2 linked regions of the Homo sapiens genome follow. The gene in region 1 interacts genetically with each later gene. Each region holds a gene or a part of one and is shown in the gene's direction. Other genes may lie near its edges.

The links.
Region 2: changes in RBBP7 (region 1) and SAP30 together harm fitness less than expected from each alone (positive genetic interaction), as found in Homo sapiens cells (one large-scale study listed by BioGRID).

The regions. Positions count from the first base shown.
Region 1 is NC_000023.11:16,860,363-16,863,862, reverse strand, and holds part of RBBP7 (histone-binding protein RBBP7), read left to right. Parts: intron 1-762; coding exon 763-908; intron 909-3,500. UniProt on the Homo sapiens protein: Core histone-binding subunit that may target chromatin remodeling factors, histone acetyltransferases and histone deacetylases to their histone substrates in a manner that is regulated by nucleosomal DNA.
Region 2 is NC_000004.12:173,369,764-173,373,753, forward strand, and holds the start of SAP30 (histone deacetylase complex subunit SAP30), read left to right. Parts: upstream 1-1,190; 5' UTR 1,191-1,419; coding exon 1,420-1,734; intron 1,735-3,626; coding exon 3,627-3,752; intron 3,753-3,990. UniProt on the Homo sapiens protein: Involved in the functional recruitment of the Sin3-histone deacetylase complex (HDAC) to a specific subset of N-CoR corepressor complexes. Capable of transcription repression by N-CoR.

The DNA.
Region 1 (3,500 bases):
GATACTGATGCAAAAATCACTGCTCGGACCAAGGTGCCAAGAGGTTTGGGCAAGTTCTTCAGCCTCAAGGTGTTTCCACAGAACAAGGTAACAAAGATACCTCGGTAAAATTGAGAATGTTCGTTTCATAAACTTAGGTATCATAAACGTCAGTGAGTTTCACATCATGCCATTTGCACTTATAGCCTATTTTATTCAGTGAAGAAACTGAGGCCCCAGGGAGGTTGTGTTTTAAGCAACTGCATTTTAGTTTGATCCAGGATTTAAGCTAAGTTTTTTTGATTCAACACTTTCTGTCCATACTACCTTGTAGAATTTCTTATTGGGAAATAAGAAACATCTAGTGTATAAGATATTTTTAGGTGGGAAGAAGATTTCTTTAGGTGGGAAGTTGTGATTTATGAGTGTGGGGATTGTTGGTGGATTCCTGTGTAGATGTTTGTCTGTGTTTACTGAGTTGGGCCTACCTTCCCCGGAGTGCTGCTCTATAAAAGGTAGTGTTCACGCTGATAATTGAGGCACAGGAGGATGGCTCTTTGGGAAAGAAGCAAGCCCTCTGCATGTTGTAGCTAGAATATTTTCTTATATTTGCATATGTGGGGATTGTAAAGTTGGTAACCAGAGGGGGAGAAGATACACAGTTGATGCTAAGTATATATTTGCTAAAGAAATATGAATGTATTTTGAGGGAACTAGACTGAATTTGTTAGCAATTGGAGATTTCTTGTAGGATTAGTGTGACTTATTTTCTTTCTTAAACAGACCTGAAGGAAAAGATTATGCCCTTCATTGGCTAGTGCTGGGGACTCATACGTCTGATGAGCAGAATCATCTGGTGGTTGCTCGAGTACATATTCCCAATGATGATGCACAGTTTGATGCTTCCCATTGTGACAGTGACAAGGGTGGTAGGTATATCATATATTCCAATATTGGTGTCAAAGGGAAAATGTCTCTTTCAAAGCATATGCTATTAAAACTATACTATTAGCTTTTGGCCCAGTAATTTAACTTCTAGGACTTTATTCTACAGAACTTCCCACCCACATGTGCACAAGGATTTTAGTCGTAATTGCAGAATTGAAAAATTAGGATCAACCTTGTAACCCAGATGTTGGTTCATAGAAAGTTGGTTAAGCACATGGTATGTTTGAAATACTACTCAGCAATTAATAAGAAAGGCCAGGTGCCATGGCTCACGCCTATAATCCCAGCACTTTGGGAGGCCAAGGTGGGAGGATTGCTTGAACTCAGGAGTTCAAGCCCAGTCTGAAAAACACAGACCTCATTTCTACCAAAAATTTAAAAAAAAAATTTTTTTTTTTAATGAGAAAAATCTGTAGGCACTGGTATAGGAAGGTATCCAAGATAAATTAAGTGACTAACTGCTATGTGTAATTACAGTATTCCACTTTGGTAAAAGTAATATGTGTTGGTGTGTGCAATGGGTATTTTTTGTTTGAGGAGAGAGGCAGTAGTGGTAGGGTTAATTCAGGAATCTGTTGGCTGCTTTTTTCTTTTTTTAATTTGTCAAACATATACTCTCCTGTTTTGGTATTCCCATGACCACCCCAAGTTTGGTGATTTTGCTAGGACTCCCAAGAGCAAATTATACTTGTGGCTAAAGTTTGTTACAGTAAAGAACACAAAAGCAGCAGGAAAAAGATGTACATCGGCAAGTTCAGGGAGGTCTGGCACAAGTCTTGTCCAAGGCCACACAGGATGTGTCTTCCGGCAGCAAACTGCAGGGACATGTGTGAAATATCTCTGCTCAGGGAAGCCTGTTTGGGTCTTGGGGTCTGAGGCTTTCTTGGGGGACTAGTTGCATAGGCACATCCTGCTGACAACCAGCCACAGCAACTGTAACTTGAGGACCCCAGTAATACAAACTGAGGACCCAGTAATAAAAGAAGGTACGTGTCATCAATCTTGATATCTGCAGAGTAACCCTGACAAACTGGTACAACGCGGTCCATTGCTCCAGGTGCACACCACAAAATCATCAGTTCATCAGTGACAGAAAGAACATTCTGAGGTGCATGTTCCCAGGAGTTAGCCAAGGGTCAGTAATAGGGTCCCAGTGTTCCTCAGAGACTCCAGGGCTAAGCACCCAGACTGCTGTATTAACTCTTTCTTCACAGTCCCAAATGGCTTAACGCTATTAGCACTTTCTAATATGTGCCTTAGGGTTTTTTTCTTATTGAAAATAAAATACTGGCCAGGTGCAGTGGCTATACCCATAGTCCCAACACTTCGGGAGGCCAAGGCAGGAGGAACGCTTGAGCCTGGGAGTTTAAGACCACTCAGGGCACACAGTGAGACATTGTCTCTATCAAAAAATAAAATTAAAAATCAGCCATGTGTGGTGGCGCATGCCTGTAGTCCTAGCTACTTGGGAGGCTGAGGATCGCTTGAGCCCAGGAGTTCGAAGCTGTAGTGAACTAGGATCACACCACTGCACTCCACCCTGAGCAACAGAGCAAGATCCTGTCTCAAAAATACTACATTCTCTAGTGTAGTGAAACTGCTAGGTTGTATGGTGTATTCATTGTCAACTTCATAGAAAACTATTTTCCAAAGTGATTTACCCAGTTTACTACTCCCACAATTTACTGTTCATTCCCCGACAACTGTATGCATTATTTCTTTAAATATTGGGGTTTTTTTGTGTTTTGTTTTTGTTTGTTATGAGGCAGGGTCTCGCTCAGTCGCCCAGGCTGGAGTGCAGTGGTGCAATCTCGGCTCACTGCAACCTCCACCTCCTGGGTTCAAGTGATTCTCGTACCTCAGCCTCAAGAGTAGCTGGGATTACAGGCGTCCACCACCATGCCCGGCTAATTTTTGTATTTTTAGTAGAGACTGGGTTTTGTCATGTTGGCCAGGCAGGTCTCGAACTCCTGGCCTCAAGTGATTCGCCTGCCTAAACTTCCCAAAGTGCTGGAATTACAGGCATGAGCCACCACTCCCGGCCTGAATATATTGTAATCAGAAATTTTTAAATGGCTTTTAGCCCTGAAGTATGTATTTACCGGGCTTGCAGTTTAACAGTCTCTGCATAATGATGTTAATATATTATTAAAGTTACACATCCAGTGTATTCTAACAAGTAGCTGAAATAATTCAGTTAATACCTTTGTTAATATTCAGTATATATATTTTTTTTTTCTTTTTTTTTTTCTTTTTTTTTTCGAGACGAAGTTTCGCTCTGTCACCCAGGCTGGAGTGCAGTGGTGTGACCTCAGCTCACTGCAACCTCTGCCTCCTGGGTTCAAGCGATTTCCCGAGTAGCTGGGACTACAGGCGCCCGCCACCACACCTAGCTGATTTTTTGTATTTTTAGTAGAGACGGGGTTTCACCTTGTTAGCCAGGATGGTCTTGCTTTCCTGACCTCATGATCCGCACGCCTTGGCCTCCCAAAGTGCCGGGATTACAGGCATGAGCCACCACGCCCGGCCAATATTGAGTTACATTTTTTAATGGATATTATCATTAAGACAGT
Region 2 (3,990 bases), on another chromosome or scaffold:
AGCTAACTAGTAAAGATGCAGCTTTCATATTAGCCACGCCCATCCCTCTCTCCGCCCTCCACAAGCACGTCCCCGCAAGCGCGCAGGAACATACACGCGTACGCGCGCACACACACGTACACACGCGCGCGCCCGCGAACACATACATACAAGCAGGCGCGCCCAAACGCCGGCAGCACACAGGCGCGCACGCGCTTTTCAGGACTCAGGAAATGCGCTTTCTGCTCCCCGCGCCCGGTAGAGCTAATGCAGGGAAGTTTCTGGGAACATTCGACCAGCGTTTGTATTGGTGAGGTTCCAAGTTTCCTTTAAAATGATATGACTCCGCCCTTCTCCAAAACCGTTTGAGGAGAAATGGAAAAGGTTGGGCGTGGAGGTGAAAAGGAGCCCTGTTGTCAACTGGTCCGTACTCCACCTCAGGAGGCGGCCAACTTGGTGCGCCCAAGAATAAAAACATTTCCCTTGTAAGAACATGCAAGTGTTTAGAAACGCCCCCCCACCCCCCCGCAAGGCGTTTGTGAGGGGGACCTGTCACAGTTGAGAAGTCAGGATGGGCGTTTTCCTCCCAGGAGGTGCCCTATTAATTTGCGGCCTCGATAGTTGGTCAAGCCGGGATGTTAGCTGCGGAACCTCCAGGACCGAAGAGCGCCAATTCTCCTGAGTTCTCCTTGGTTTGGGTTTCCCACAAAAGAGTGGTCACACCAAAAACTCTGTCTCCACAAATGCGAAACGGGCTCGAAACTTTTTTTTCCCCACACGATCACTTCCCACACCACTCCCATCCCTTTATGTTTCGCCTCAGGAGTCGAGGAACTTCTCTGAAAACCAATTCTACGATATTCCAGCAGCTAAACACAGCCCGAATTCCCTAGAAACAGAGAGAGCGAGAGAAAACACTGTAAACCCCAATCACACGCTCCTGTTTTCCCGGTACTGAAAAAAAAAAAAAAAAAAAAAAGTGGGTCCGTGGCCGCGCTATGCATGCTAGGATTAGTAGTTCCTCCGTCCCTCATGGCGCGGGGTCAGGGCGGAGCTCAGGTTGACTCTGCAGCAGAGAACTACAATTCCCATGGGGCCGCGCGGCAGAAAGAAAGGGGCGGGACGGGAGGGGGCGCGTCGCGCTTGCGCAGGTCCCGGGGCCGGAGGGAGGCGGAGGCGTAGCGGTCCAACTGCTGAAGTCCCCATGTGACAGTGAGCGGGGTCCCCGCTCCAGGAGACGCTCGAGTCTGCGTCCCGGCCCTCAGCACTGTCCACTGTTTCGGTGCCAGCAGAGACCAGCAGGCCCGGGACAGTTGGTGTTTGGCCGTGCCGCTGTCTAACTTGGTGTGCAGAGTGAATTGCCGCTGCCGGAGCGGAGAGAGGCGGAGCGGCCAGGAGAGAGGGGATTTCTGTCAGCGCCGGCCTCGGGAGCTCGGAGACATGAACGGCTTCACGCCTGACGAGATGAGCCGCGGCGGGGATGCGGCCGCCGCAGTGGCCGCAGTGGTCGCTGCCGCGGCCGCCGCCGCCTCGGCGGGGAACGGGACCGGCGCGGGCACCGGGGCTGAGGTGCCGGGCGCGGGGGCGGTCTCAGCGGCTGGGCCCCCGGGGGCGGCCGGGCCGGGCCCCGGGCAACTGTGCTGCCTGCGGGAGGATGGTGAGCGGTGCGGCCGGGCGGCAGGCAACGCCAGCTTCAGCAAGAGGATCCAGAAGAGCATCTCCCAGAAGAAGGTGAAGATCGAGCTGGATAAGAGCGTAAGTAAACCGCGGGACCGCCCTGCCCTCCCGCCCCTCGGTGGGGCCCCAGGAGCCGGGCAAAGGCACGGGTTGTCGGCGGGGTCCCCCAGACAACCGCACTGGCTGCAGTGCGGTCTCGTGGAGTCTGTGTTTGGAAGCAAATAACAAAGTCGCTGCAACTCCTACCGCCACCCCAACACACACACCACACACAGGCTGTCGTTCCCCTCTTCTTTCCCACCCTGGCCCCCAACCTCCCGCTGCCTGCGTCTCTCCCGCGCAGTCTTCCCTCTTCCTTCTCCTCTGCGACCGGGACACGAAACAAAGGGGACCGGCGCACTGAGGGCCCAGAGTAGTTTTCTTGCAGCCCGGCAGCTCTTCTGGAATGGAGGCGCCTTTGTTTTGCTGCCCAAGCTGGTGTTTGGCCCCAGGCGGTACTAAATCCCGTCGTCTAGGAGAAAGCGGAGGACCTTCACGAACAAGGAAGATCCTGTTCTTTTCTGTGTTCCGTCTCCTCCGGAGCGGAGTGAGAGGGAAGCCGAGCTCACCCGCCGCCTGGCAGTGAGCCGGGGTTGTAAACGGCGTTTGCGCTGTCAGCTCCGAGGGCAGCTACTCCGATGGTGGGGAGCACGTAGCCTCTGCGGTTTTGCCATCCCCTTGGCAGCCATCAGGATTTTTTGCACGTCTTTTCGTTTGACCATCTATGAGGTTTTTAGAAACAGCCGTTGCTACTTTTGGGAGATCTGGCTAGCGGTAAATGAATAACATGGTATCGAGAACCTACCACAAGTCCTGCATATTTTTATCTTGCGCTTGGCTTAGAAGTAAATGTAAAAGCCTGTTAGCTCAGTCCGTGTTTGTTTCAAATGCTAGTCTACAGCTCGCAGGAGTATATGTAATTAAAGTTTTTGAAAAGTTTATTTGTGACACTTTTTGCCCGTTTAAACAGTTTTCAGTGTTATCCATGAGAAACTCTTCAGGTGAACTTGCATAATTTCAGATTGTTTTGGAAAAATGTGTTATAGATAAATACATTGATTTAATATTCAGAAAAATGTATAACTGAAATTTAAATATAGTTTTGAAGTCGATGGCTCATTTGTGAAAACGAATGGTTTTGTATCTGGACTATAATTTGGGTATTCAGTTAGAAAGACTGGAAAGCATACATTATATTACTAAAATATGCTGTTCTTTTAAGTAGAGAAAGTACTGTCAAGTAGCAAAACTGTGAGCAACATCATCTTTCCCCTCATCAGTTAAAAATTCAACATGAACTAATTCAGGTCATCCTTACTGCTATCTGTTTGTTTATTTATTTAAGACAAAGTCTCACTCTGTTGCCCAGGCTGGAGTGCAGTGGCGCGATCTCGGCTCACTGCAACCTCCAACCACCAGGTTCAAGTGATTCTCCTGCCATAGCCTCCTGAGTAGCTGGGATTACAGGCTACTGCCACCATGCCCGCCTAATTTTTTGTATTTTTAGTAGAGACGGGATTTCACTATGTTGGCCAGGCTTGTGTGGAACTCCTGAGCTCAAGTGATCCACCCGCCTTGGCCTCCCAAAGTGCTGGGATTACAGGCGTGAACCACCGCGCCCAGCCCCTCACTGCAATTTGATGACAAAACCCAGAGGGTTGGAATTTCTCATTCTCCTCTCCCTCCCTCCCTTACCCCCTTCCCCAGATGGAACCAACCCCTCCTTCCCCATCCACCATCCTTTTAACAGTATTCCAGACATCTTATGTTTTAGCGTATAGGATTTAAACGTATAAATATTCCATTATCTTAACAATGGCCCATCTTGGCTGTCTTTATTTTTAAGAACTCACTGTGGCATATGTGTTTTACTAATACATAGACACATTTTACTGTAATCATAAGCAGTGTGTAAAACTTTTCTGTTTCAGGCAAGGCATCTTTACATATGTGATTATCATAAAAACTTAATTCAGAGTGTTCGAAACAGAAGAAAGAGAAAAGGGAGTGATGATGATGGAGGTGATTCACCTGTTCAAGATATTGATACCCCAGAGGTAGATGGAAGTTTTTTATGCTTAATGTAAATCCTAAGTAGTGCATTCTGAAGCCTTTATAAAAAGATATGAACAATCTTTTAAGTGTTTAAAACATTTGAGAAATCTGAAAATGAAAGCAAAATTAAATATAGCCAGTTGACATGCATTTACACAGTTTGAATTGTTACATTTTAGATTGACAATTTTTGCAGCTCTGTTGTCACATAACTTACTCTTTTTTTGACCTCAGTTTATA